4 linked regions of the Homo sapiens genome follow. The main gene of each other region encodes a partner of the protein of the gene in region 3 in a complex. Each region holds a gene or a part of one and is shown on either strand. Other genes may lie near its edges.

The links.
Region 1: SRRM1 (region 3) and SNW1 share a complex: the UniProt entries of both Homo sapiens proteins name them as parts of the minor spliceosome.
Region 2: SRRM1 (region 3) and PLRG1 share a complex: the UniProt entries of both Homo sapiens proteins name them as parts of the minor spliceosome.
Region 4: SRRM1 (region 3) and SNRPD3 share a complex: the UniProt entries of both Homo sapiens proteins name them as parts of the minor spliceosome.

What each region holds. Positions count from the first base shown.
Region 1 is NC_000014.9:77,750,843-77,758,718, reverse strand, and holds part of SNW1 (SNW domain-containing protein 1), read left to right. Parts: intron 1-3,598; coding exon 3,599-3,752; intron 3,753-7,238; coding exon 7,239-7,400; intron 7,401-7,876. UniProt on the Homo sapiens protein: Involved in pre-mRNA splicing as component of the spliceosome. As a component of the minor spliceosome, involved in the splicing of U12-type introns in pre-mRNAs.
Region 2 is NC_000004.12:154,533,985-154,540,756, reverse strand, and holds the end of PLRG1 (pleiotropic regulator 1), read left to right. Parts: intron 1-61; coding exon 62-163; intron 164-703; coding exon 704-806; intron 807-1,543; coding exon 1,544-1,652; intron 1,653-2,648; coding exon 2,649-2,788; intron 2,789-3,277; coding exon 3,278-3,471; intron 3,472-4,012; coding exon 4,013-4,072; 3' UTR 4,073-5,752; downstream 5,753-6,772. UniProt on the Homo sapiens protein: Involved in pre-mRNA splicing as component of the spliceosome. Component of the PRP19-CDC5L complex that forms an integral part of the spliceosome and is required for activating pre-mRNA splicing.
Region 3 is NC_000001.11:24,666,426-24,673,781, forward strand, and holds the end of SRRM1 (serine/arginine repetitive matrix protein 1), read left to right. Parts: intron 1-389; coding exon 390-500; intron 501-557; exon of another isoform or gene 558-662; intron 663-2,697; coding exon 2,698-3,162; intron 3,163-3,694; coding exon 3,695-3,890; intron 3,891-4,960; coding exon 4,961-5,170; intron 5,171-5,756; coding exon 5,757-5,861; 3' UTR 5,862-6,856; downstream 6,857-7,356. UniProt on the Homo sapiens protein: Part of pre- and post-splicing multiprotein mRNP complexes. As a component of the minor spliceosome, involved in the splicing of U12-type introns in pre-mRNAs. Involved in numerous pre-mRNA processing events.
Region 4 is NC_000022.11:24,565,685-24,573,560, forward strand, and holds part of SNRPD3 (small nuclear ribonucleoprotein Sm D3), read left to right. Parts: intron 1-2,299; coding exon 2,300-2,492; intron 2,493-6,231; coding exon 6,232-6,293; 3' UTR 6,294-7,876. UniProt on the Homo sapiens protein: Plays a role in pre-mRNA splicing as a core component of the spliceosomal U1, U2, U4 and U5 small nuclear ribonucleoproteins (snRNPs), the building blocks of the spliceosome.

The sequences.
Region 1 (7,876 bases), on a different chromosome or scaffold from region 3:
ATGGAGCTTACACTCTAATGGGACAGAATTGGAATTCTAGTGGGACAGAATTCTAATTAGCTTACATTCTAATGGGACAGAGTGAGTAAAATCATAATGCAATTTCACGTAATACATGCTAGGAATAAAATAAAGACCGGGTTAGAGAGTGACTCAGAGTTTGGGGTGAAGTGGCTATTTTGGGTAAGGTGGTCAGAAAACAGCTCTAGAGAGAGGTAACTGAGCAGAGACAAGAGTGCTGAGATGCAAGCTGTTGAAAGATCTGGGGCTACTCTAGGCATACTGCCTGTGGGATAGCCCTGCCCAGCAAGGAGCAATCAAAAAAGAAAAGATCTGGAGATCTGGAGAAGAATTTTCTATAAAAGCATACGAAAATTTGTTCTTTTTTTTTTTTTTTTTTTTTGTGGCAGAGTCTCACTCTCACCCAGGCTGGAGTGCAGTGGAGCAATCTCAGCTCACTACAAACTCCACCTCCCAGGTTCAAGTGATTTTCCTGCCTCAGCTGGGATTACAGGCGTCCGCCACCACGCCCGGCTAATTTTTGTGTTTTTAATAGAGACAGGGTTTCACTATATTGGCATGGCTGGTCTCGAACTCCTGGCCTCAAGTAATCCACCTGCCTTGGCCTCCCAAAGTGTTGGAATTACAGGTGTGAGCCACCTCGCCCAGCCGGAAAAATTGTGATTGATTGCAATAGATAGATAGATAGAGAAAAATTGTGATTGATTGATTGCAATAGAGAAAAATTGTGATTGATTGATTGCGATAGATAGATAGATAGATAGATAGATAGATAGATGATTAGATTGATTTGATGGCAGAAGGAATAGCCAATGTAAAGATCCTGAGATGGCTTGTTTAAGAAAAGATAAGAAGGCTGTAGTGAAATAAAGATGGTGAGTGCTGGGGAAGAGTGTATTTATTTCTCCTACAACATTTAAGGAGCTCGAGCTGTGAGCTAGAAGTCTTGGAGCATTAGGGATGAAAGAAGCATAAGGCGTGATTCCTGCAGAGCTGCTCACAGTCTCATGAAAACAGAATAGTTAAATGAGTAGATGATTGCAATACAGTAAGGTAATGTTGTAGTAGTGGTATGTAGAGCGTTTTGGGGGAGCATAGAGACAGGCAGTTAACCCAAACTGGAGGAGTCATGGAACAGCCCTGAAATAATCAAACATACAGAACCTGTATTGAAAGTGTCTAGATACTATACCAACTGGTTCATGGATTTCTCTCATTTAATACTTATAAGAACCTTATGAAGTAGATACTCTTATGAACTATTATTACAGATGAGAAAACAGATTCAGAGAGGTAAGTAGCTTATCCAGGTTAGTAAGTGGCATAGGTCGGATCTGAATTCTGAGCCTAGCCATCACTTACCTCCCCAGACTGGATTAGATCCCTCTCATGTAGACTGTCATAGCATCTATATTTTTCCATCATAACTTAACATAATGTGTAATTATAGATTTGTGTGATTTTTTTTTTTTTGGTCTCTGTCTGCAAGACTAAGCTGTCTTTCTCCATTTATAGTCTCATGCCTAGCATAGTGCTTGTACCCAAATAATAAATATTTTTGAATAATTAATAAGCTCTGCTACTTAGGTATGCTTACTATCCAAGAATCACAAAGGAACTAAGGTTATTTTCTCCATATTCATCCATCAGGATCCTTTTGTAATACTTTGGAGTATCACTGTAATACTTTAATACTTAAAAGTTGTTAAGAACCATTTAGTAGAAAGGTTACCTTGACTAAAGAATAAGCTGCATCTTCAGGGCTTCTGCTTTGATTCTTTGGCCTCTAAGGGTTTTTTTGTTGTTGTTTGTTTGTTTGAGATGGAGTTTTGCTGTTGTTGCCTAGGCTGGAGTGCAATGGTGCAATCTTGGCTCACTGTACCCTCCACCTACCGGATTCAAGTGATTCTCCTGCCTCAGCCTCCCGAGTGGGATTACAGGCGCACACCAGCACGCCTGGCTAATTTTGTATTTTTAGTAGAGACAGGGTTTCACCATGTTGATCAGGCCGGTCTTGATCTCCTGACCTCAAGTGATCCACCCACCTCGGCCTCCCAAAGTGCTGGGATTACAGGTGTGAGCCACCATGGCTGGCCTGGCCTCTAAGTTTTAAATTTCATTGTAGATACCCTTGACACTTAAATATGCAACTTGTGTTTATTTTATCCACCTCTTTTTTACATTCAGTTTTAATCCTAGTTCTTTTGTATTTACACTGAAGTAGTTTAAAGTAAGGAGCATAATGGTAAAAATGTTAAAAACAAGGAGTAGCCAGGCGTGGTGGCTCATGCCAGTAATCCCAGTACTTTGGGAGATGGAGGCTGATGGATCACTTGAGGTCAGGAGTTCGAGACCAGCCTGACCAACATGGGCCAACATGGCAAAAACCAGTCTCTACTAAAAATACAAAAAATAGGGATGTGGTGGCATGCACCTGTAATCCCAGCTACTCGGGAGGCTGAGGCATGAGAATCACACGAATCCAGGCGACAGAGGTTTCAGTGAGCCGAGGTTGCACCACTGCACTCAAGGCTGGGCGACAGAACGAGACTCTGTCTCAAAAAAAAAAAGGAGTATAAGAATAGCAAGTATATACTGGACAGTTTATCCCTGAAGTATTAGGAATGTTTACTTGTTTGTTATAAGAAATATGGAAACAGGCTGGGCGTGGTGGTTCACACCTGTAATCCTAGCACTTTGGGAGGCCGGGGCGGGCACATCACCTGCGGTCGGGAGTTCGAGACCAGCCTGGCCAACATGGCGAAACCCTGTCTCTACTAAAAATACAAAAATTAGGTGGGCGTGGTGCTGCACATCTGTAATCCCAGCTACTTGGGAGGGTGAGGCAGGAAAATCACTTGAACCCAGGAGGTGGAGGCTGCAGTGAGCTGAGATGGTGCCACTGCACTCTAGCCTAGGTGACACAGAGAGACTCTGTCTCAAAAAAAAAAAAGGAAAGAAATATGGAAATACGGAAGCATGGCCAGGTGTGGTGGCACACGTCTGTAATTCCAGCACTTTGGGAGGCCAAGGTCAGCGGATCACTTGAGGTCAAGTTCAAGACCAGCCTGGCCAACATGGTGAAACCCCATCTCTACTAAAATTGCAAAAATTAGCCTGGTGTGGTGGCGCATGCTTGTAATCCCAGCTACTTGGGAGGCTGAGGGAGGAAAATCACTTGAACCCAGGAGGCAGAGGTTGCAGTGAGTGGAGATGACACCACTGTACTCCAGCCTGGGCAACAGAGTGAGACTCTTTCTCAAAAAAAAAAGGAAATATGGAAGCATAAACGCTTAAGAGTTTGTCTGTTATGTGAAATATCTGTTAATTTTTTATTCTGGACATCATTTGCTGTTGTCCTAGTCAGATGTTTTTACTGTGTATCTTTGAGTACTTCTGTCTTCCACATATTATAAAATGGCTAGTATTGAGTACTACCATAAATCATTGAAAAATCTGCTCTTTTTCTGAAAAGTAAAAGCATCGTAGGAAAAATTGTCTCTGTGGCCAAGTTGCAGTGGTCAAATTAAACATAAGAGTTTTTTAAATTTCTGACTTTTATTATCTTTGCTTATAGCTTTTTACCTGCACCTACTCAGCTATCTCAGGACCAGCTTGAGGCTGAAGAAAAGGCAAGATCCCAGAGATCACGGCAGACCTCACTGGTCTCCTCCCGAAGAGAACCTCCCCCGTACGGATACCGGAAAGGCTGGATACCTCGGTTATTAGAGGTACATATAGATCTTAAGTTTAGATTTGTTAAATTGTGCTGAAATTTATTATAGCACACTATAACATAAATTTAAATGTTAGAACCTCTGATTATGAATGTCAGTGTGATAGAAATTCTGGTTATGTGCTCTCAAGATGTATATTTCCCTCAGAAGATGTATCATTTTCTTTTTGCTTATTATCTATCACTGCTTTGTGGTCACTAGAGAACTGTACCATTTGTCTATTCCTATATCAAACTATTAAATATTTACAAGAAAACTAATATTTTATAAATTCAGGAATTACGGAAAATAATGGGAAAGTAAAAGATAAGAGAGATGAAAGTGGTTTTCATATTTGGGCTCCTCCTCCTCCTCCTCCCCTCCGATAATACCACATAACCCTGAAGAGACAACTTTCCTTCAGGGAAAACTCCAGTAGCACTTCCTTTGCTGATTTCTTTCTCTTCACCTGTTTTCTTACCTTTAATTTGAGAATGTTAATATATATCTGATATATAGATTAAATATATTTTTGCGGGTATAAGACAAAATTTGGTTGATTTGAAGGCAATGAGGGAGAAGGAACCATCTGGAATAGCTCTTTCTATCTCTAGCTTGTTGCCAAATAACAAGCTTCCGGTCGGGCGCAGTGGCTCACACCTGTAATCCCAGCACTTTGGGAGGCCAAGGCGGGCAGATCACCTGAGGCCAGGAGTTCGAGACCAGCCTGACCAACATGGAGCAACCCTGTCTCTACTAAAAATACAAAATTAGCCAGGTGTGGTGGCGCATGCCTGTAATCCCAGCTACTCCGGAGGCTGAGGCGGGAGAATTGCTTGAACCTGGGAGGCAGAGGTTGTGGTGAGCCAAGATCGCACCATTGCACTCCAGCCTGGGCAACAACAGCAAAACTCCATCTCAAAAAAAATAAAAAATAAAAATAAAAAGAACAAGCTTCCTTGGCAGCACCTATTCTAATTACTCAGGATCCTTTACATTAATTAATTAATTTTTATTTTTTTTATTTTTGGGATGGAATCTCGCTCCGTTTCCCAGGCTGGAGTGCAGTGGTGCGATCTTGGCTCACTGCAGCCTTCGCCTCCTGGGTTCAAGCGATTCTCCTGCCTCAGCCTCCCAAGTAGCCAGGATTACAGGCACGTGCCACCACATCCAGCTAATTTTTTGTATTTTTAGTACAGACAGGGTTTCACCATGTTTGCTAGGCTGGTCTTGAACTCCTGACTTCAGGTGATCCACCTGCCTCGGCCTCCTAAAGTGCTGGGATTACAGGTGTGAGCCACCGCGCCTGCCCCACACTCTTTATTAGAGTTTATAAGAGGAACACCCAACTAGATCATATCTTGTCCTATGTATTCCAAAAAACCCACATGTAGGTCTTTTTGTTGCTTTTTTGTCAGCTTTCCTCTGGTCCTTATGAATGCTGGTGTGTGAAGGCCAGTCATATTGCAATTATTAAGGGATTTTTGTTGCTTTTGTTCTCTCTGATAGTGTTATTTATGGGAGGCAGAGGAAGATGAAAGATTATCAAGGAGTCTTACCTGGGGCAAAAAAGTAGTGATTGGCATCATCTAATAGAGCAGTTGAGTGTCTCTGTTGAGGCATTATAAATATTGTTTGGTCTGTCAGTACATTGCACAATGAGGGTGACAGGCATCATCTTACATAGAATGTAAATCTCATCCATGCATTTCAGCATTACGATACTTGGTTGCTATTAGATTTTTAGATTCTTACTTGGCTATCAGTGGTTTCATATATCCTGGTGAAACAGAACAACTTATTTGAAAATCAAGTTGAAATGGCTAGCTAATCTGGAAATGCTATGGATGCTGCTTGAGGGGAGTGAATGTTCTGTGGAAGAAGGCATTTTGTTCTAGTTTTCAAAATAAAAGCTATGATTTTCTGGCAAGCTTAATGACCACATAATGCTACAGCTACAGTTCTGAAGTACTTATTATAGTTGAAAAACTCTAGCAAATCCAAGCATGTGTCAGATTGATGGCTTGGGTACGGGAAGCACTTATCTTAGGAATGCTTTAACTCTTTCTCATTTACAAGAAAATGTCTCTCAGCTTTATTCTCTTGGTTTTCAAAAACTTCAAACATCTCTTTAGCAAATAAGCATATTGTACTTAGGAACTCATATATCTTAGATCTAACGGAGTATTACTTAAAGAGGTCTTGTAAAAGTGAATATTTTCTTTTTTTTCCATCAAACCCCCTCTAAATGATTAATTTTAATTTGTGTTTTCTATTATTTCTTAATAGTACTCATTTGGCTGTTTTGAGCTAAAAGAAAGGTATTTCATAGTAGTAGAAAATACAAAGCTTTTCGGAGTCTCAAAAGATCTGGGTTCAGGTGCTGCATATAATACCTATGAGATCTCAGGAACACCGCTTAATTTTTCTAAGCCTGAATGTTTCCATTTAAAATGATGTTAAAGAGTTACAAGGATTAAATGAGATAATACATGTGTGAATCATGTTTAAAGTGTACTAAGCAAATACTACTGAATTTTTTTTAACTACTTAAAAATTATACTTGATCCTCATGTTTATTTGATAAACCTTTTTAAAATACTACATTTCATCAGCAAACTTTATTTAGCTTGTTCTACTTTAGCAGTCTCAGTTCTCTCTCCTAAATAATTATGTATAATCACTAGTAGAAATGTAGTAAACTCATTTCTGGATCCTTCCTATTGTATTCATTTGCTTCTCACATAACAATGAATAAATAATATGTTAATAAAATCTGATTCCAAGAAAAAATCTTTTATATTTCTGCCCCAAGTATAGCTTTACCTGTTCCTCACTAAAATATGTATTTATATGCTAAAATATATACACATATATTTTGCCTTGTCCTAGCCATTTTACTTAGTTTCGTCCTGCATATATGAAATCCACATTTTCTTGCTGTAGCATGTAAGTCCCTTTGTGATCTGGTGTTTTTTACTCATGTAACTTGTGCCTCAAGCTCTGCTGTCCTTATTAAGCTGTTAGCCCCACTGAATTCTCATTTCCTAAAATATACCAAGCTCATTCTTGCAGCAGGGCCTTTGCATTGGCTATTTGATCCATCTAGAAAATGCTTTGTGTGTGTGTGTGTGTGGTGTGTGTGTGTGTGTGTGTGTGTGTGTGTGTGTGTGTGTCTTCCCATGACTGCTTTCTAATCATTCAGGCTTTAGCTCACATGTTACTTCTTCACAAAGGCTGTCCCCAACCACCCTATCAAAAGTAGCCCCTTTTCCCAGTCTTTTTCTTTTATATTACCTTCATGGTACTTATCACAAGCCAAAGAATGTGTTTTTTATATCTTTGCCTACTAGAATGTAAACTCCACAAGAGGCAGGGAACTCTGCTGTATCTCTAGCATCTAGCATACTAAGGACTCAACAATTACTTGTTGAATGAATGAATATATCTTGAATGTCAAATGATGATTAACTATTTTATTTAACTACTTCTAATGTGTAGGATTTTGGAGATGGAGGTGCTTTTCCAGAGATCCATGTGGCCCAGTATCCACTGGATATGGGACGAAAGAAAAAAATGTCGAATGCGCTGGCCATTCAGGTGGATTCTGAAGGAAAAATTAAATATGATGCAATTGCTCGACAAGGACAGTCAAAAGACAAGGTAATCCTCTCATGTTTTCCCTGAATGATAAATATTTTAGGAAACATTTTAAATTTTGTGGACACGATAAATCTCTTGCTGTTTGAATTATGTTAAAAGTAGCAGTGGCTGGGCATGGTGGCTCGTACCTATATTCCCAGCTACTTGGGAGGCAGAGGTAGGAGGTTTGACTGAGCCCAAGAGTTTGAGGATACAGTGAGCCACTGCACTCTTGCTTGGGTGGCAATACCTTGTTTTAAAGGGGGAAAAAAGTACATTTTAAAACAGTTACTTTATATTACTAGCATTCTAAAACTGCCAGTAAATTTTTAAAAATCTGCAACCCCAGAGCCTTACCATCAACTTTTAATTTATCCTGTAGTTTCTTCTAGTTTTTTCCTATAGTCTTGACTCATTTCCTCCATGTACTTAGAGTACTTACATGTACTCTATTACAAGTATTTAATAGTTTATTTGAGTATAATAAATTACACAAA
Region 2 (6,772 bases), on a different chromosome or scaffold from region 3:
TTGTGAACTACTATTTATCTTTCTAATTCTAGAAGTTTTAACTTTCCTGCTTTGTCTTTAGGTTATACGGCATTATCATGGACATTTAAGTGCAGTGTATGGTTTGGATTTGCACCCGACAATCGATGTGTTGGTAACCTGTAGTCGAGATTCAACTGCACGGGTAAATGGGATAGAGTTGTGTATTTATCTGTAAATATATTGCATCTTGTAGGGTGCACTTTCGGTTTCAGTGTCTTCAATTGATTGATAGAGAATTAAAGATAGCTGTCTTGAGTCATCAATATCCTAGTCCCTAAGTTTCTTAACTTGCATTTTTTTCCACCTTAGTCTTCAGTTGTATGGCCTCACCATGTTAGTGTTATTAGTGCCCTGCCCCTGAAATGTGATATTCTCACGTTCCATTCTGTAACAACTATTGTCCATTAGTTCTTTCATTCAGTAGTCTTAAAAAGTAGTCCCATCATACTCATTCTTAGATTTTCAGTACCCTGATCTTTTAGCTTTTTAGAATTCTTGCAAGTTGTCTCCTATTTATATTCGTCCTCCAGTTTGTAAATCATTATCTTTCACTTAAGCATTTTCTTTATTATATTCAGGCACTAGTTATGTAGTAAATTTTCAGCCTTGAATTGATCCAGTTATCTTCTTGAGATAATGAATACCTATTCTCTTTCCTAATATGTCTATTGTGTTTTTATAGATTTGGGATGTGAGAACTAAAGCCAGTGTACACACATTATCTGGACATACAAATGCAGTTGCTACAGTGAGATGTCAGGCTGCAGAACCACAAATTATTACAGGTATGATCGATACTTTTCAAGTTTACAGAATATTCATGTCAGAATCCATGTTATTATACATATACTTTTAATATTCATGATGACTCTTGCTCTGTATTGTGTTTACAGTGTTTCTGTGTCATATTTTAATCATGGACAATTGAAATGTATTCAAATGAAATTTCATTCCACTGTTTTTACCTCATGCTTTTTACATATCATAGAGTATGCCATACATAGTATCCTGTAATGTCTGACTAGAATACTGTGTTATGAACAATTATTATTTTATAGTGTCAAAATTATTTTTCTAAGAAATTGAAGTTAGAAGACAAAACATCTTGAGACTAGTAATCTTTAGAACTGATTTGAATCTTACTTTGCTCTAAATAAAGTTAGTAACAATGGATCTTTAATACTAGAAAATAATTCCTTTGCCTGATGTATTTTATTAACTTAAAAAAATCATTGAAGTTTTTTCCTTTTCACTAGGGTATACAATTATATATTTATTTGTTATTTGCATTTGTTTTAGCTGTTCAATTGACAGTGAATCAATTGTTGTATTGCATTTTTTTAAAGAATTAAAATCAACCTAAAAATTTGGAACTATGAAGAAATTAGCCAAGACTAATTTGCGTGTGATATGACTTTCATTTAGAACATATGTGTTTTGGAAGAATGCTTTGTATTTTATTTAACTTTTGCATTATTTTTCCTGGTCTATGTTTTGAGGGATATATGTGTTTCCATTACAGGAAGCCATGATACTACAATTCGATTATGGGATCTGGTGGCTGGAAAAACAAGAGTGACATTAACAAATCACAAAAAATCAGTTAGGGCTGTGGTTTTACATCCAAGACAGTAAGTGTATTTTCCTAATTAGCTTCTTGTTTTTCTTCAGTTCTTAAGATAATGCTGAAATGCTAGTGGTGTTAGCACTGCTTTTGGCAGTCATTTAGCTGCTGTCATTTCTAGGCCTGTGCCGCATAGGAACGTGTGTTTCTTTTATTTTCCTCATGCACTATTTTGCTTCATGCCCTATAAAACATGAGGAAAGCCTTCTACTTGATAACAAATAAATAATGTCAAATGAGACAGTGTAAATCATGATTAAATGCTGCATGTCAAAATAAAAGATATTAGTGGCTAGGCTTAATGTTTTGGACATAAATGATTTTGGACACTGAGACATTCATTGAATAGTTTAATTCTTAAGGAGGAAGTTAATATATGTAGAAACAGAAATAATAAGAACCGTGAACATTACAGTCAGAGTATCCAAAAAGGTGGAGCATAATATCACAACTATTGTTTGGTGTATCAGATCACTCTGACACTTTTCTGGATTCTTCCTCTCCTTCCTTTCCTCTTCTCTGTCTTCTACTCTCCATACCCTTTTCCCCCTCTCTTCTTCCTTCCTTTGCTTATCTTTCTCACTCCCATTTCGCCTCTCCTCCCTCCTGTTCTCTCTCTTCCTCTTGCCCTCTATTCCTTTTCTCTCTTTCTTCCTGTCCTGTCTTGCTCTCCCTCCCTCCAAAAGAGTTGCATAACACATTGCCCTTCATGTGAAATAGGGCTTCTGCACATTTATTGCTCTGGCTTAGTGCAGAGCATTAAGGAAATGAAAGGAGAACAAAACATTAATCTAGGACTTAAAATATACTGTTAAAAATGTGAAGGTCTGATTTAACCTTGAACAAATGTCTTAATATTTTTACATTTTGATACGACTATTTTGCTGAATATATAAATCATTGAGTACACACTGCAAAATATAACTGAAATAAACTTTTTAAAACCCACCACTTTATTTAACTTGGTTTACTTTGTCGTTAATTCTTTTTAATATTATTTCAGTTACACATTTGCATCTGGTTCTCCAGATAACATAAAGCAGTGGAAATTCCCTGATGGAAGTTTCATTCAAAATCTTTCCGGTCATAATGCTATTATTAACACATTGACGGTAAATTCTGATGGAGTGCTTGTATCTGGAGGTAAAATAAGATTTTTATAATAAATATGTTTAGTCTGTTATTTTTTCTTTTAATGATGAATAAACATTTGTAATGCTTCTAAGCTGTCACACTTAAGTATTATAGCAGCACTTGCCTGGTTAGGGCATATTTGCATGTTATTATGTGTGTTCATGCATATTCATATTACATGTAGTATATTTCATAGCTTAGTCCTCTTTGAGTTCCCATCTAATGAATCTCAGGGATTTATGCTGGGAATTGCTTAAAATTTTGTTTATTATTCTGGAATTGGATGTCAGATTTTCAGGTGCTTTTTAAGATCTATAAGTTCTGAACCCAGCCCAAATGAAAGTAGACAAACCAATATTAAGAGAAGGTGGAGTGCCTGTGTCTTATGTATTTTTATAACCGTAGTATTCCCATGCTTGGGCTAATGATGCTTCATAAATGTTTGTCAAGCTGTACTGCTGAGGGGATACCAGGTGTAACTAGATTTTTCCCTTTAAGCTGACAATGGCACCATGCATCTTTGGGACTGGAGAACTGGCTACAATTTTCAGAGAGTTCACGCAGCTGTGCAACCTGGGTCTTTGGACAGTGAATCAGGAATATTTGCTTGTGCTTTTGATCAGTCTGAAAGTCGATTACTAACAGCTGAAGCTGATAAAACCATTAAAGTATACAGAGAGGATGACACAGCCGTAAGTTCTGTGTTTCACATTCGTTAAGTAAAACAGCTATACCAATTTGGCAGCATATTCTCATTTAATTATCAGAAGGAAAAATAATCTTTATAGTATTTAAGATATCTGTCTTCTTGAATAGTGTCCATTTATATATTTCTATATTGTTTCACTGATGCCAGTGAATCCATGGATGGCTTTAATTTTATCCCAACTTCCTTTGTTATAGTTGCTGGGAAATGTTGCACCAAGAATAACAGCAAATAAATAGATTGCTATGTAAATTAATTCGAGAATCATAAGCTTTGGTGTTAGTAGAATATCCAAGTAGAAATGTTATTTTAGATGGAAAACTACAAACTAAACATAATGAATCCATCCATCTGTTATTAGACTTGGATAATGCCAGAAGTTTATCAACTCTTCCTAAAACTGTCAAAGAACTAAGTGTATAAAGCCAATGAATAATGTTAGATACCTTATTTTTGTTAGAAAGGAAGCCTATTAGACATGAAGCAAACTAATAATACTTTATTTTAACTCACTTTTCTATTTTTAGACAGAAGAAACTCATCCAGTCAGCTGGAAACCAGAAATTATCAAGAGAAAGAGATTTTAATGAATGTGGAATTTTTTCTCTCTCTTTTTTTTTCTTTTTAATTAAAAAAAAAAAAGCTTGGCGTTCATGAGGATATCCAGTCATTTTGTGCTCTGGCTGGGAATATAAAGGAGAAATTCACTTGCTTCAATCATTGCTGCTTCATATTTTACAATAAACTGTCCCCTGTCCCCTACCCCTGTGTTTTTATTTCTAAAACAATTTGTGATACTAGGAAGATGCAGATATCAAGTAAATGCAGGTTTATTGAACATAACTATTCTAGATGTAATATTTTGACAGTCTTATTAGAAAACCCCCTTTTTTAAAAAAAATGTATGAAACCGATAATTAGGACATTTGAAGGAGCAGTAGTTTTTTTTTAGTCCTTTAAAAAATAACATCTGTGACTAATAATTTGAGATTAAAAGATTTGAAGTCTTAATTTATGTATGTTTATTCCAAAAACAGTTTTTGAGTGTATGTTCTACAAAGTTCTGCACTAGATACTGTTCAGGAAATAGACAAGTAAGATGTGTCTATCCTCTAAGACTTCCAGTTTGGTAGCTTAGTATAGAAATTCTGTAACAGAGGTGCAGGTGAAATGCTGGGGGAACAGAAGGGATAAGACCATTTATTTTTCTCAGGAAGGATTGTGGAAGACTTCATAGAGTAAGTGGCATTGGAGATTACCTTGAAGTGAAGGAAGACAAAGAAGGAAAAGAGATGAGGCATAAAGTGATGAAACCAGGCACAAGAAAGTGTGCGGTGTGTTCTGGGACAAAGAATGTTCTGCTACTGTCGAATAATGGGACTAAAGCTGGCTTGTTCTGGGGAAAGCTCATATAAGTATGGATTTTATTCCTCAACTAGTAGGATACCAATACTGGTATTGAAACTTGGGGAAAATAACTGGAGATACCAGTGCAGCTATTTAAAGCTGTAGCAAGGGCTGCAATCTTGCGGAGATTTTAAAGAGAAGTTTTAAAGTTTCTAATACTGATGCCTCTTTTTGGTAAATACAAGTTTTATAAATCCTGCCCTGGGATCCTGATTCCCCATTAATCAAGATTTGTCAGACTTCACCTTCTATAATTAGAAAACACAGTTATAAGAACAGTCAATTTTTTAAATTTTCCAAATTAAAAAATTGCACCATGATTTTGAACAAGCACTTCCAATTACATTACCCATCTTGTATGCCATAGGTGGGAGTATAATTGTCACAGCCTTTAGGAATGTAGTTTTCTGGGATTTATTGAAACTTTGAACCTTTTGGCCTACTAAGTTCATTCCTAGGAAACTGCCTAATGGGAATGATCTGACAAGTGTACACAAGCAAAGTCATTGCACCTTTGTTCTTTAATACTTAAAACTAGCCCAAATGCCCTGTCAGTAAGGGACTGGTTTAATAGATGGTACCTTTATGCAATTTGTTTCTAAGTATTCGTTAAGAGAGTGAGGAATGTCTGGATTATTAGGGCAAGATTTCTAAACTTGGGTAAAAAAAAAAGTTGTGCAAGCATTTTTGTGGACAACTTGATGCTCTAAAATATAAGTAACACCACATTACTAACAGTGGCTTTGTTAGGAAGCAGAATTATGGAAGAACTTTCATGGGTGGCTTTACATATTTCTATAATGTTTTAATTTTCTATAAGCATGTATTTCGTAAACTTAAATAAAGAAAAAAGAACACTACACTTGCATTCCTGAGAGATTCTGATATGCCTTCTAACAAGAAAAATCAGAGGTGGATGCTGTTCCATCTCTAAAGGCCAAGAAGAAATTACTAGTACAAGGAGATGAGAAAGCCCCTACCGACCTGTCTGGCAAAGCTTCAACTATTGTGTTCAAGTTAGGTATACGTATCAAATTCTGAAAAGCATTAAAAAAAAATCTCTTTCCCTGCTCCATGCTGCCCTGTATTACAGTGTTCTTGAATCCTCTGTTGCATTAATTCATATACCATAATGTGTTTGTGAACCCTATGAAAGATGCAGAATTTCATGCATGTGCCCTTTTACTTACCTGACAGACATCCAACCAGGGTTAAGCTCAAATCTTTTCCACTGCCCATTCCGTACAGCTTGAGTGTAGTCAAGCTATAAAATGTTACCAAAGAAAAACAGCTCCACTGACTGGACTCATTCTTGGTCTATAACCACATATCTCAAGTGGGCCATCAATAATGACCAAATACACATTTCCATAGTTAATGCCTTCTGCCTGCTGTTACAGAGGATGAGCAATCTGCCTCACAACAATTCCCTCTGTGCAGTTGTTGCCATACACTCTTGCCCACTCAAGGACCTTGCTCCCATGATTAAACTCTTTCTCTCCTGTACCATGAATTTCTTCCCTCTGCCCTAAATGAGTGTCATCAACAAATAGGTTGCAATACTGCTTCTTAGAAAAAAAAAACACTAAACCTATTGTTTCCCTCTAGGAATACACCCATTTCTCTACTCTTACAGCCAAACTCTTAGAGTTTTTGATAAACTTATTTCTATTTCCTCACTTTACATTTTTTCAACCAATTGCAAAAAAAAAAAATAATGAAAATGTGTTAAACATTTTTCTTTTGAAAAAAGGAATTGGTAAGTTAATAAGGAAAAATAATAAATACTGATTTTTTTGGTACAAAAATAGATAAAACTAGATAAGCCAATTAAACAGAAATATAAATAATAGAAACAAAGGGAGGAGGGAAGTAATAAC
Region 3 (7,356 bases):
GTGTCTTCTGGGTCACTTAACTATAAATGCCACTGACTCAAAGTTAACTATATAGGCCAGGCGTGGTAACTCACACCTATAATCCCAGCACTTTGGGAGGCTGAGGCAGGCAGATCACCTGAGGTCAGGAGTTCAAGACCAGCTTGGCCAACATGGTGAAACTCCGTCTCTACAAAAATATTTTAAAAAATTAGCCAGGCATGATTATGGGTGCCTGTAATCCCAACTACTCAGGAGGCTGAGGGGGGAGAATTGCTTGAACCTGGGAGGCGGAGGTTGCAGTGAGCCAAGATCATGCCATTGCACTCCAGCCTGGGCGACAGAGTGAGACGCCATCACACACACACAAAAAAAAGAAAAAAAATTAACTATAATTCTTCTTGGTTTAGTGGTAGACGGAGGAGAAGTCCATCCCCACCACCCACCAGAAGGCGACGGTCTCCTTCTCCCGCCCCTCCTCCTCGACGGCGCAGGACTCCCACACCACCACCACGACGAAGGTACTTTGTCAAATATGCTAACTGGAGCATCTCCCCAACTCCCCCCGCCCCTGATAACATCAGATGAGTAATGGTGCTCACTTCCTAACAAGGTTGGAGAGAGGCACAGCTCATGTGTGCATGTGAAAACCCAATCATCATGCTTATGAACTACAAAAGGATCTCTGAATCTTTCTGATGATTATATCTTATTAGAGTAAGCAGACTAGCATTGTTCAGCCAGTCATAAAAGAACACGTATGATTCCATCTATATGAAAAGTCTAGAATACACAAATCTATAGAGATAGAAAACAGATTAGGGTGGGGTGGACATGGGGATGGTAATAGCTGCAGAACTATATGAATATACTAAAATCATTTAATTGTATACTTTAAATGGACCTTAAATGGGTAAATAGGTAGATTTTATAGCAGGTGAATCATGTATTGTCATAAAGATGTTAATACATTAAAAGATGGTATTGACTAGTAATTGTAAAGAGAAAATTTAGAGGATACTGGCAGATATCTCTTACCTAAATAATCAAAGATAACATCCTCAATAAAACATTGGCATCGTGTATTTCCTGGATACCTCTGTAGTATGCTTACCAATTATGCCAAACCTCAGTCTTATTATTAGGAAATAATCAGACAAACCCAAATTGAAAGTCATTTTACAGAATACCTGACCAGTATTCAAAAGTGTCAGTCATGAAAGACAATGACAGAAACAGTCACAGATTGGCAAGAACTAAAGAGATGTAGGGTCCTGGAGCAGAAAAGGAACATTGATTAAGTCCTGGAACAGAAAAGGGACATTCAGTAGTGGAAAACTGGGTTGTTTGCTATTTTAGTAATACTAAGTTATCACTGAGGTTCATTTTACAGTTTTGCTAATTTTCTTATGGTTATATAAAATATTAGCATGGTGAAGTGGCAAATCTCCTATTTTTGTAGCTCTTCTTTACAACTATTTTAAAGTGAAAATTAGGGGAAAATGTTTTAATGTCATTGCTCGGATATGTTGCCAAGCAATGTAATGACATGCTGCCACTCTTTTTTTTTTTTTTTTTTTTTTTTTTTGAGACAGTCTCACTCTGTCACCCAGGCTGGAGTGCAGTGGCCGATCTCAGCTCACTGTAACCTCCGCCTCCTGGGTTCAAGCGATTCTCCTGCCTCAGCCTCCCGAGTAGCTGGGATTACAGGCATCTGCCACCACACCCAGCCAGTTTTTGTATTTTTTGTAGAGATGAGGTTTCACCATGGTAGCCAGGCTGGTCTCAAACTCCTGACCTCAGGTGATCCGCCTCAGCCTCCCAGAGTGCTGGGATGACAGGTGTGACCCACTCTGCCCAGCCTGGCTGCCACTCTTGAATGCCTGTTAAGTGCCAGGCAAAGTGCTAGGTGCTTTATATGCTTTACTACTAGTCTTCAAAGCGACCTTGCTTGATAGTTGGTATTGTTTGCATTTTTCAGGTGAGGAAATGGGAGTTGAGAATTACTAAGTAATTACCCAGATACAGTGATGAAATTGTGCCCTACCACATTGCCAAAATATATGGCCTATTGTAAAGCTAACTCTGGGCAGGAATTTACTTTGATCTAAAAGTCTGCAATATCCAAGAGGAAATTAGGCAGTTTGGCCTGAAAAGTGGCCTTTTGAGACAGAAAATGGAACAGTCTCTTTGAGGGGAGGTAGAAGTGTCTTTAAGGCTTGTGCAGTGAACTCTTAATTATTCATACAGTGTCCAAATGCTCATTCAGAGAGGATACCACATAGGAGACCTCTTTAAAGTGCAGACTTCCTAAGGTGACCATAATAGAGTTTTGCTAATACAGTTACTTGGTTATTATATAATAACTGATGTTCAGTTAATACAGTGCAAGATTCTGTTTTCAAAAAACGTTAATTTTGTATAGATGTTAAAAGATTGACAAATTCACATCTTCTGAAAATTGCAAATTTTTGTTAATCAAAATGTCTTTTTTTCTTTTTTGTACTTAGTCCTGCAGACAGTGTCCTGTGTTGCAGTCAGCTGAGATAAACAAGTTTTATTGATATTTAAGTGAGAATATAAAGATAGCATGTTCACTTATAAATATATTCCCTTTGCCTAGTGCTAACTACAGTATAGCCAAACCTACTGATTACTTTTCATCCTGTTTCTGTATTTTGTTGAGCCTTTCAGCTTAATTATGTATCTTTTTCCTAGGACTCCTTCTCCTCCCCCACGTCGGCGCTCACCTTCTCCTAGAAGATACTCTCCTCCAATACAGAGGAGATACTCTCCTTCTCCACCTCCAAAGAGAAGAACGGCTTCACCTCCTCCCCCTCCTAAACGAAGAGCATCACCATCTCCACCACCAAAGCGGCGGGTCTCCCATTCTCCACCTCCCAAACAAAGAAGCTCCCCAGTCACCAAGAGACGTTCACCTTCATTATCATCCAAGCATAGGAAAGGGTCTTCCCCAAGCCGCTCTACCCGGGAGGCCCGATCACCACAACCAAACAAACGGCATTCGCCCTCACCACGGCCTCGAGCTCCTCAGACCTCCTCAAGTCCTCCACCCGTTCGAAGAGGAGCGTCGTCATCACCCCAAAGAAGGCAGTCCCCGTCTCCAAGTACTAGGCCCATTAGGAGAGTCTCCAGGACTCCGGAACCTAAAAAGATAAAAAAGTAAAAATATTTTATGCTTTTCCATTAGGAATACTTACATAGCTGTTTATATTTGGAAGCTTCCCCCCACCCCCATATAAAAGGAATAAGTTATGAATATGAGCTTTTAAGTCAAACTTGAGGTACTATTTACAGATCTTATTCCATTTTTTGGGATAGTTTCTGTGGTATAAGTTAAATGCCACAGGCTTTTACTTGGTTCTTAGCAGTTATTAATTTGTTTTTGAGGGGTATGCTTCCAAAACTAAACTTGAGTAAGACATTGAACATTTCTTGTGTGTGATGTAAGGAACTGACATTACTAATCTTACATAAGAAGCATCATTAACAGAATAGATAGAGGATTATGGGGCTTTAGCCACCCTCTGGGAAACATAGGTAATGTAAATTGGATATATGTTAGTTGAATCAACCAGCAATCTAAGTGGTATATTTGAAATTCATAACCTGGTTGTACAGTGTAGTTGGTGGTTTTCTCATGTGAAGAGAGATGGCTGTTCTCAATGCTGAATGTTTTTTCCTTTTTGTCTAGGGCTGCTTCCCCAAGCCCACAGTCTGTAAGAAGGGTCTCATCCTCCCGATCTGTCTCCGGGTCTCCTGAGCCAGCAGCTAAAAAGCCCCCAGCACCTCCATCCCCCGTCCAGTCTCAGTCACCGTCTACAAACTGGTCACCAGCTGTACCGGTCAAAAAGGCCAAAAGCCCAACACCGAGCCCATCACCGCCAAGAGTATGTGTCTGCCTTATTTTGGACACCCTTTTATAAATATGTATATGGTCACTTTGAAGCAGAGAAAATGTCATTGGGGCATTAAAATATTGGTGTTTAAACTTTTTTTCCCATTTGTGAGTTATACATCTGATCTTGGGCAGGTTTCTGTATTGCATAAAATCAGTGGTTAGGTGTCCATCTGTTTTTTGTTTGTTTTTGAGACAGGGTCTCATGCTGTCACCCACGCTGAGTGCAGTGGGATGATCATAGCTCACAGCAGCCTTCCTGGACGCAGGTGATCCCTTCGCCTCAGCCTCCCAAGTAGCTGGGATTATAGGCACATGCTGCTACACCTGGCTGGTTTTTTGTTTTTAACTTTTTGTAGAGACAGGGTCTTGCTGTGTTGACCAGGCTGATCTTGAACTCCTAGCCTCCAGTGATCCTCCTGCTGTGGCCTCAGATGTCCATATTTAATTGGGTTGACTGAATAGTTGTGCAAGCTAACTTGTGAGGAATTTTAAGTAATTGCTTAGAAGTGTGAAATTGAAATATTATGGATTAAATTATAGGAGCCTGCTTTTTGCATAAATTTGGTATGTGTGTCATGAGGAAGAACCAGTCATCCCCACTCTAAAGATAGGAGAGCTCAGATGGTAGCTAGAGACATGGCATTCATACAGGCATGTGTTTAGACTAATGGCTGGTACCATTTATTAAAAGTCTGCTACATGTTAGGCAAGTATTATGGGTGATTTACAGATATTCTCATTTAATTTTCACAAGAGCTTTATCAGGTAGGGATTATTACACTTATTTTAGGTAAAAAGGTCTCAGAAAGAGTTCAACAATTTGTCTAAGGTCAAATAGTTCAGGAGCTGGAATTGAGCTCATCCTGGAGATAGCCCCTGACTTTTGAATACTTTTCTTGGTGATAATTGGCCTTGGGCCTTCCCCACTCACACCCTCCAAAGCCTTTCGGAAATCTTGAGATTTGTCCATTGGGGATTTGAGGAAATAAAATGTTCAGTTGGACAGAATATTAATCAGATTGATTATAAATGCTGGGTGTTGTTTTTTTTTCTTCCTAGAATTCAGATCAGGAAGGAGGTGGAAAGAAAAAGAAGAAAAAGAAGGACAAGAAACACAAAAAGGATAAGAAGCACAAGAAGCACAAAAAACACAAGAAGGAAAAGGCTGTGGCTGCAGCTGCTGCAGCTGCTGTGACCCCTGCAGCCATTGCAGCTGCCACAACCACATTAGCACAGGAAGAGCCAGTGGCAGCGCCAGAGCCGAAGAAGGTATTTATGAACTCTGTATATGGCTGTCTTGCAGTTTACGTACAGATAGCAAAGTCATTTTGTTTTGAGAAGTAGCAAAATTGTTTTTTCTACTAATTAGCCAGTTACTCTGAGATAAAAGTCACGTACCATACAGTTCACCCATTTAAAGTTTGTGGTTCCCTGGGTTTTAGTATATCAGTTGTGCAGCGATCCCCACACTTTTTTTTTTTATAAAGGTGACTTATTTATTTAAAATATTAACTATCCACAGTGGCCATTATATTTGCATACAGTTCAGTACTCAAAAGATTTGTGAGGTTGGTTTTTTTTTTTGTTTGTTTTTTAATTTTATTATTATTATACTTTAAGTTTTAGGGTACATGTGCACAATGTGCAGGTTTGTTACATATGTATACATGTGCCATGTTGGTGTGCTGCACCCATTAACTCGTCGTTTAGCATTAGGTATATCCCTCCCTGCTCCCCCTACCCCACAACAGTCCCCGGTGTGTGATGTTCCCCTCCCACACTTTGATTCTGCTCTTTACTCGGCATTTCCCACCAGGGTCTCAAGACTTAACCGTGTAAATTCTGTTTTTTTTAGGAGACTGAAAGTGAAGCTGAAGATAACCTTGATGATTTAGAAAAGCACCTGCGTGAAAAGGCCCTGAGATCAATGAGGAAGGCCCAAGTGTCCCCACAGTCTTAGGGGGAAATGTTTGTTATGATGTAAATTTTATTTGGTTTGTACGCAGTTCAATTTCAAAATTGCTAAAATGTGTTTGAGCTTTAGACTATAACATTTGTTGTAATAATTGCTAGGTTGAAGTTCAACATGTAAAAAAAGGGGGCATGGATTTACATTGCAAAAGGTGTCCACAGTGTATTAGTGACATTCTTTCATTGACAGCTGACATAATTCATTGAGTGAAATATTTTAAGCCAAAAAAAAATTCCCTTTTTAAAAAAGGGGGTTTAAATACTGTTGGCATTTTTATGGTTCCTTTAAATGCCCTAGCTATTCCCAGAGGGGTTTTTTTGTTTGTTTTTTTGGTTTTGATTTTCTTTTTGTTTTTCTTTCTTCTTCTTATTTTTTTCATTTGAGTCTTAGCTCCCATTTAAGTTATGCTTCTGACCTTGTATGGTCTGTAAGCTTGCCCAGAAATAAGACCACTGTTTTGAACTACCACAAAAGTATAAATGAATATTTTAATGCCACAATCTTTCCTGTTGCCTGTGGAGTCTCTGCTGAAATGAATCAGGATTCGAGCTCTAGGATGAGACAGAAAATGAAAGCATGTTGTTTGCCAGGACACTGTGGGTTTATATTGATGTGTAACAAGTTGATTTGGAACACTGGACTCTCATTCTGTTATTCTGGTTTTGTTTTTTTTGTTTTGTTTTTTTTCTTTTGTAAAGGCAATGAGCTAGTCCCAGAAAGGATCCTTCAGTTACATACAATTTGTTTAATGAAATGTCATGGCTCTGTTCATATTTTTGTCTTGTTCTTCCAATTGGTATATACAACTTTCAGAGCCTCTTGTATTTGGAAGGCTGGAAGGGCCCAGACTTTGGAATAGTGTCTTGGTTTCACTGTTTTTGTTTTGATTTTTTTTTTGTTTTGATTTTTTTTAAACTAAAGCTATATAAAGCTTGTGGATTAAACAGAATAAATTTCTAAATTTAAAAATTTTGCCACTCTTACTTAGTAGTGCTTATGTAAACCTTTTGGTGTGTTGGGAGTTGGGCAGGGGAAAGAAAAGGTGATGAAATTAAGGTTTTACCATCTTTATTTCAATAATTACTGTGGTGAGTGCTATAAAGGGAATCAGCATGTGATTGGAACATTTAGAATACTGGTGGGAGAAGTCCACCAGGCAAAGAGAACAGGATTGCAGTCAGACAAACAGTGTCTGTGTCTTCCCTGAGGCAGAAGGAGCCTGCTGGCATGTTAGGAAGTGAACAAAGGCTAAGGAATGACTGGAACACCCTCTGTCAGGGGCGGGGTGGGGGGGGGGGGGTTGTGTGTGTGTATGTGCGTGTGTGTGTGCGTGCGCACGTAATATTTGGCTATCTACAACCAAGTCTGTTTTGCATTTAAAACTAAGTGGAACGAAAATTTGGGGAAACTTGGAGTTGTTAACATAGTGTGAGGTAAAACAGCAACATTCGTATGAAAGAAGTTCACCAGAAACCTAAGCTGA
Region 4 (7,876 bases), on a different chromosome or scaffold from region 3:
GCGTCTTGCTCTGTTGCCCAGGCTGGAATACAGTGGCGTGATTTTGGCTCACTGCAACCTCTACCTCCCGGGTTCAAGTGATTCTCCTGCCTCAGCCTCCCGAGTAGGTGGGACTACAGGCACCTGCCACCACACCCGGCTAATTTTTGTATTTTTAGTAGAGCCAGGGTTTCACCGTGTTTGCCAGACTGGTCTCAGGTGATCCACCCACCTCGGCCTCCCAAAGTGCTGGGATTACAGGCATGAGCCACCGCGCCCAGCCCCAAAACACATTTTAATTGTCAGTCAGATTCAGGTGAGCCTGAGTTGTATCCAGTTTCTGTCTTGGGTAGTCTGACCATAAACCTGGCGTTCATTTGTGGCACTAGAGGTTATGGTATTCTTCAGGGGAAGAAAAGGATTGGTAAGGACTTGGGAACTGGATGAAAATTTAATAACAGGCTGGGAGTGAGGAGCCTGGAGCAGAAGGTTTATGAGAAACTGGAGCCCTGTTGCCCCTGAAGGTAGAACAGGGATAGTGGGTAGAAGCTCTAGAAACCATTCCTCTAGAAACTGCTCATATACAACAGGGGCGGCCCCAGAGCATAGTTTTGTTTGTTTTATTTTTGAGAGGATCTTGCTCTGTGGCCCAGGCTAGGGTGCAGTGGCTCCATCACAGCTCCCTGCAGCCTCGACCTCCCAGAACCAAGTGATCCTTTCACCTCAGCTTCCCGAGTAGCTGGACTACAGGCACATGCCACCACACCCAGCTAATTTTTGTAGAGATGAGGTCTCACTGTGTTGCCCAGGCTGGTCTCAAACTCCTGGGCTCAAGTGATCCTCCCACCTTGACCTCCCAAAGTGTTGATATTACAGACATGAGCCACCACACCTGGCCCATAGTTGTTCTTTTCTGAGTGTTCAAGCAGAGGCTGGGTGGCCAGTTAGCACTTGAGGAAAAGAATGAATGAGTATAAGATGGCAGCTAGCCAGACAGAAATCTGCAGAGACAGCACATCTTTCTACAATAAGGGCTGACCCATTCTAAATAAATTATAGTTCTCTCTCTTCAGAAGGTTCATACAATAAGCTGCTTTTTCTGTAAATGTGGTGCTTGTTGAGGTTGATGCTGGCAGATTGGTATCACCCTCCCATGCCAAGCTGGTCTCACCTTCAGGCTCCCCATTTGTCCATCCTGCAGTCTATCCTTGTTGCCACATTTATCTTTCCTGAGTGCTGCCTTAACCCTATTGATCTTTCCTCTATCGACAAACTTGACTGACTCCTTTATCTGAAGTAACGACCCCGTCCAGTGTCATTATTCGACTGCTCTGGTCCTCACATCCTGTAGGCTCCTGCCCAAGTGCCTGCTCTTTTCCTTGTGCAAGCTCTTGCCTCATAACCCTCCAGTAATTTCAGGCCCTTTTTACAGGCCTTGTGGTACCACCTCCATTTCTCAGTCCCTAGTCACTCAACCTAGAGGGTTCTGTCTCACCTTCTAGAGTATGCACTCTGGAGGGTCAGAACCACATCTGGTATATACTTGTGACCTTCATGGTGCCTTTGAAATCTGAGTGCCAGGCAGTGCAGGGGAAGACAGTTTGGACCAGCAGTTTGAAGCTGTTTTCGTTAGGGTTTAGCACCTTCAAGAGCTCTTCACATCTTTGCTCAGCAGGCAGTGCAGCACAGCCAGGGCTCTGAAGCTAGGCCAGCTGGTTCGAATCTGGAGTTCCCTGCATTCCAGCTGTTTGACCTGGGATAACTGCTTTGGTTTTTTTAACATGTAAAGATGGGAGCACTCGGCTGGGCGCAGTGGCTCACACCTGTAATCCCAACACTTTGGGAGGCTGAAGCGGGCAGATCACCTGAGGTCAGGAGTTCGAGACCAGCCTGTCCAACCTGGTGAAACCCCACCTCTACTAAAAATACAAAATTAGCCGGGCATGGTGGCGCATGCCTGTAATCCCAGCTACTCAGGAGGCTGAGGCAGGAGAATCGCTTGAACCCGGGAGGCAGAGGTCACGGTTAGCCGAGATTGCACCATTGCACTTCAGCCTGGGCAACAAGAGTGAAACTCCATCTCAAAAAAAAAAGGGGGGGAGCACTCATACCCACGCTGAAGGTGTTGTGAGGACTGTTTAGGTAAAGTGCTCAGTGCAGTCCCTGGTGTACACAGTTAGTACCGATGATTGCTGGGTAATTCACCAGCTTTGTCACAATGTCAGTCTGCTTTTCTGGACTTCCCCCTCCCACCAGTCAAGGCCCTCCCCACCGCTGGTGCTGTTGACCGTTAACTTATTAGCTGGTGATTTCCTTCCAGATGTCCAACATCACAGTCACATACAGAGATGGCCGAGTGGCACAGCTGGAGCAGGTATACATCCGTGGCAGCAAAATCCGCTTTCTGATTTTGCCTGACATGCTGAAGAACGCACCCATGTTAAAGAGCATGAAAAATAAAAACCAAGGCTCAGGGGCTGGCCGAGGAAAAGCTGCTATTCTCAAGGCCCAAGGTAGGTGCTTTTCATGCACAGGTTTTAAAATATAGGTTTGTCTTGTGTCTTGTAGAAAGGGGCCCTATTACTGCCTGGAGACAGAGAGGGTTTGACCTCTGCTCTCTCCACACCCACCACCCACTGCCACCCCTTCCCCTTGCAGCGTGGAGTGATCCTGTGAGGCCATTATTTTATTTTTTTGAGACAGAGTCTCGCTTTGTCACCCAGGCTGGAGTGCGATGGTGTGATCTCAGCTCACTGCAACCTCTGCCTCCCAGGTTCAAGCAATTCTCCTGCCTCAGCCTTTCAAGTAGCTGAGATTACAGTGCGCACTGCCCTGCCTAGCTAATTTTTTTATTTTTAATTTATTTTTATTTTTATTTTATTTTTAATTTTTTTTAATTTTTTTATTTTTTTGAGATGGAGTCTCGCTCTGTCGCCCAGGCTGGAGTGCAGTGGCGTGATCTCGGCTCACTGCAACCTCCGCCTCCCGGGTTCAAGCAGTTCTCTGCCTCAGACTCCTAAGTAGCTGGGATTACAGGCACCCGCCACTGCGCCGGGCTACTTTTTGTATTTTTAGTAGAAACGGGGTTTCACCACCTTGGCTAGGCTGGTCTTGAACTCATGACCTTGTGATCCACCTGCCTCAGCCTCCCAAAGTGCTGGGATTACAGGCGTGAGCCACTGCGCCCGGCTTATTTTTATTTTATTTATTTATTTTTGTATTTTTAGTAGAGATGGGATTTCACCATGTTGGTCAGGCTGGTCTTGAAGTCCTGACCTCACATGATCCACCTGCCTCGGCCCCCTGAAATGCTGGGATTACCAGTGTGAGCCACCGCACCTGGAGAGGCCCATCTTTTCTAGAAGTTCTGTGTGAGAGGTGTGGGATCGCTTGCCCTTGTCTAGTTTGCCGAGCAGACACAGCCCGGAGCAGATGAGCTGACTCGAGTGTGAGGGCAGCATTTCCTAGCGAGACTGGGTCTTATGGATGGACACCAGCATGTACTTAGGGAGGTCTGATAGTGGAGCTCCGTTTTCAGAAATAAAGCCACCTTTTAGTACATTCCAAAAGTGGGACTGTCCTTTTCGCAGTCCCCTAGTCTGGTCTTGCTTCTTGGTTAGCCTAATTTGGTTTTATATTTAGGTTCATGAAAGTTCTGTCATGTTGATTAGACAACAAAGTAATTGTGGCCCTTGGAAACTGTCTTAGTGTTGGTAAAAAAGGTTTGCAGCCAAGGAAGGCACTGGATTCTTCATTGGTATCTTTAGCTGCTGTACATGTTTTATATGTGTGTGAGGAAAAAAGTCAAACTGTGTTTTTCCTCTGCTCTCACAACACAACAATCAACAAAGACTTCTGTGACCAAGCAAGCAGTCAGTTCTGCAGTAGACACCAGCTGGGTGTCCTTCAGTTCTGACACTATCTACCTGGAGATAGCCTGAAAAACCACAGGTTGAGGGCTCGGTCCCACAAGACAGCCCCTGCACCCCCCACTATTATTCATAAGCACAGGCCTCCAGAACATCTGAATGGCTTCAAGCCAGGGTTCTCACGTCTCACTCCTTGGGTTCGATTAATTTGCTGGAGTAGCTCACACAACTCGGGAATCACATACTTAAATTTACTGGTTTATAACAGGATATTTTATAGGCTACAAATAAACAGCCACATGAAGAGATGCATAGGGTGAGATCTGGAAGGGTCGCAAGCACAAGAGCTTCTAGCCCCATGGAGTTTCCTCCCGGCACATGGATGAGTTCTTGTTCACCTTCCTGTCAGGCTGCGCATGATCAGCTGTCCCGAAGCTCCCCTAACCCTGCCCTCTTGGGCCTTTTATGGAGACTTTATTGGATAGTCATGATTAAAGGATGGACAACCATGTGGAAATGCCATTAGACAAAATGGGTGTGATCTAACACTAATAGACGGGGTTGGGAAACCCCGCGAGGCCTGTCCAGATTCTTTTTGGCCTCTCTCTGCAGCATTTGTTCCTCCAGGGTATAGGGCAGGACCTTTCTCTGGAGTGAGGTCTTATGACCCACAATCAGATTAGGGTCCTGCCTTGGGCAGGTGAAAGGAGGGCAGGAGAAGTTTCAAGAGAGAGATTCTGTCTCCTGAGTCCTGCTTCTGAGGCCTAAAGTGCCCCAATGTTATAACAAAAGACTATAACAAGGACTATAGGAGTTACGAGCTGGGAACCATAGATGAAAGCTCAAGTTTAAAGATGTAATAGTGTGAGGGGCCGGGCGCAGTGGCCCATGCCTGTAATCCTAGCACTTTGGGAGGCCGAGGTGGGCAGATCACGAGGTCAGGAGTTCGAGACCAGCCTGGCCAACACAGTGAAACCCCGTCTCTACTAAAAATACAAAAATTAGCTGGGCATGGTGGCAGGTCCCTGTAGTCCCAGCTACTCGGGAGGCTGAGGCAGGAGAATCGCTTGAACCCAGGAGGTGGAGGTTGCAGTGAGCCGAAATCGTGCCACTGCACTCCAGCCTAGGTGACAGAGCTAGACTCCATCTCAAAAAAAAAGAATATTTTATTTGTTCTTCAAAGCCTGTCTTCTCCTAGAACCCCTGGGTTACAGAGGAGAACAGCAGTCTTATCATGCTATTTATATGGAGTGTGTTTTCTTTTTGCTACTATGAAATAATTCTTTTTTTTTTTTTTTTTTTTTGGAGACTGAGTCTCCATCACCCAGGCTGCAGTGCGGTGGCTTGATCTCAGCTCACTGCCACCTCCTCCAACTCCCAGGTTCAAGTGATTCTCTTGCCTCAGCCTCCCAAGTAACTGGGATTACAGGCGCATACCACCACGTGCAGCTAATTTTTGTGTGTTCAGTAGAGAAGGGGTTTTGCCATGTTGGCCAGTCTGGTCTCAAACTTATGACCTCAAGTGATCTGCCTGCCTTGGACTCGCAAAGCCCTGGGGTTACAGACATGAGCCACTGCACCCAGCCTGAAATAATTATTTTCTCAGAAAAAAATACAAAAGATAATATAACCCTTCTCCCAGATCTAACACATGTTAACACTTAACTATATTTGTTTCAGAATTGAAAAAATTAATTCAGTGCATCTATAATGTTTTTCAGCTCACCCAAGGCCAGCCCCAAGGATTTGTCTTTTCTGTAGCTCTCAGACCACCTTCTTTGCCCTCAGCATGCTGCCTCCCAGCCTCTTGTAGAGAGCAGTGTGGGACTGGAAGGCAAGAGTGTGCTGCTAGCTCCTGCTTTGATGCCAGTCCCCAGCCCCTGCCCCTCCGTCTCCATCCCCCCTGTTAAATGCAGTGGCTGTCAGCTGGACGTGTTGGCTTATGCTTGTAATCCTGACACTTTGGGAGGCCGAGGTGGGTGGATCACCTGAGGTCAGGAGTTTAAGACCAGCCTGGCCAACATGGTGAAACCCTGTCTCTACTAAAAATACAGGAAATTAGCCGGGCGTTGTGGTTCACGGCTGTAGTCCCAGCTACTCAAGTAGGAGGCTGAGACATGAGAATCGCCTAATCCCAGGAGGTGGAGATTGCAGTGAGCCGAGATCATGCCACTGCACTCCAGCCTGGGTGACAGAGTGGGACTCCGTCTCAAAAAATAAAAAAAAAAAAAGGCGGGAGGTGGAAATGCAATGGCCAGGGTGGTGTTGGACCAGGTAACCCTTCAGAACCCTTCTAACTGGTGTCCTAGGGCCCTGGCTACTCTGTGCTATGAGCATTCACCGACCACACTGACCTGGCCTCATATTTTCTCTTCCCTTTCAGTGGCCGCAAGAGGAAGAGGACGTGGAATGGGACGTGGAAACATCTTTCAAAAGCGAAGATAATTTTCTAAGTTGAACAGAACTTTGTCCTTTTTTCTTTCAGGTTATCTGAGTTCATTGGAGTGGGTGCTTGTGCATATATGCTAGGTATCTTTTGCCATCTTTCTCTTTAGATCAGGGGAAATGTTTAAGCTAAATAAATCTGGGGGGTTTTTTGTTCTGTTTTGTTTTGTTTTCTTTGAGAAAATAAGGACTTTGTGTTCATTTGAAGTTTGCTTTGGCTAAATTTTGACACCCTGGGGGATGTCCTGGGAGAATGCCAGTACTTTGAAATAGCACAGCTATTGATGAGATTTTAAGCTGCTGTTCCTGGCCAGTTGCAGGTTAAGCCCCAGAAAAGTTCACCTTGGAGAAGCTCCGAGAACACACAGATTGTGTCTCATTCATCTTCAGACACAGGCACATAGTGTGGCACTTTGTTCAGTTAACATTTGTGGAGCTGTCATCAGCTCAGCTTTAACAACACAGGTGACTCTTTCCCTTGATAAAGTCATAGGTAATTCAGGGGCTGGGTGCGGCGGCTCACGCATGTAATCCCAGCACTTTGGGAGGCCAAGGCGGGCGGATCACGAGGTCAGGAGTTCGAGACCAGCCTGGCCAATATGGTGAAACCTCGTGTGTACTAAAAATAAAAAAATTAGCCGGGTGCGGTGGCATGTACCTGTAGTCCCAGCTACTCGGGAGGCTGAGGCAGAAGATTCGCTTGAACCCAGGAGGTGGACATTGCAGTGAGCAGAGATCATGCCACTGTACTCCAGCTTGGGTGACAGAGCGAGACTGCACCTCAAAAAAAAAAAAGTAATTCAGGGGATCCTAGTGGCCAGCTTCCTTGGCTCGTATACTGGCTACAACAAGTAGTTTTGTGGTGATTTGTGGAAACAGATTCTTGGGAGCATATCAGAGCATCTCAGCATTGATTGGCACATCCATAGTTGTTAATGTAGGAAGGGTGACCAGCAGCTCAGCACAGTGGCTTGCTTCCAGCACTCTGGGAGGCTGAGGTAGAGGATTGTTTGAGAGGAGTTCAAAACCAGCCCGCGAGACATAGTGAGACCCTGTCTCTACAAAAAATTCTAAAAATTAACTTGGCATGGTGGTGCACACCTGTAGTCCTCGCTACTAGGGAGGCTGAGGTGGGAGGATCACTTGAGCCTGGGAGTATGAGGCTGCAGTGAGCTATGACCTTGCCACTGTACTCCAGCCTGGGCAAAAGAGCAAGACTTTGTCTTTAAAGAAAAATAAGTAGTAGTAAAGAGTATAAGATACACAGGGTGAATAATTGTGACAAAAACACAGAAACTGGAAAAGCAGCCTGAAAAAATCAAATCACCAAAAAGAGGTCTTGCCAGGTATTCATTATGGTATGAGCTACAGCATAAGCCATCAAGAGGAAAACTGATCAATTATTGGCTTTTAGAATATTGCTCATTGAACAGATTATTCAAGTAATGAAAGAGGAGGGGAAAAAAATCCAGCACATTAGTTAACCTGGCATCAATTAATGAGGTTCTAATAAGCTTTGTCTTATGATACTACCTGGAGGTTACAGAGCTGGTATTCTGAGGAATAAGCATCAGTGAGTTGGT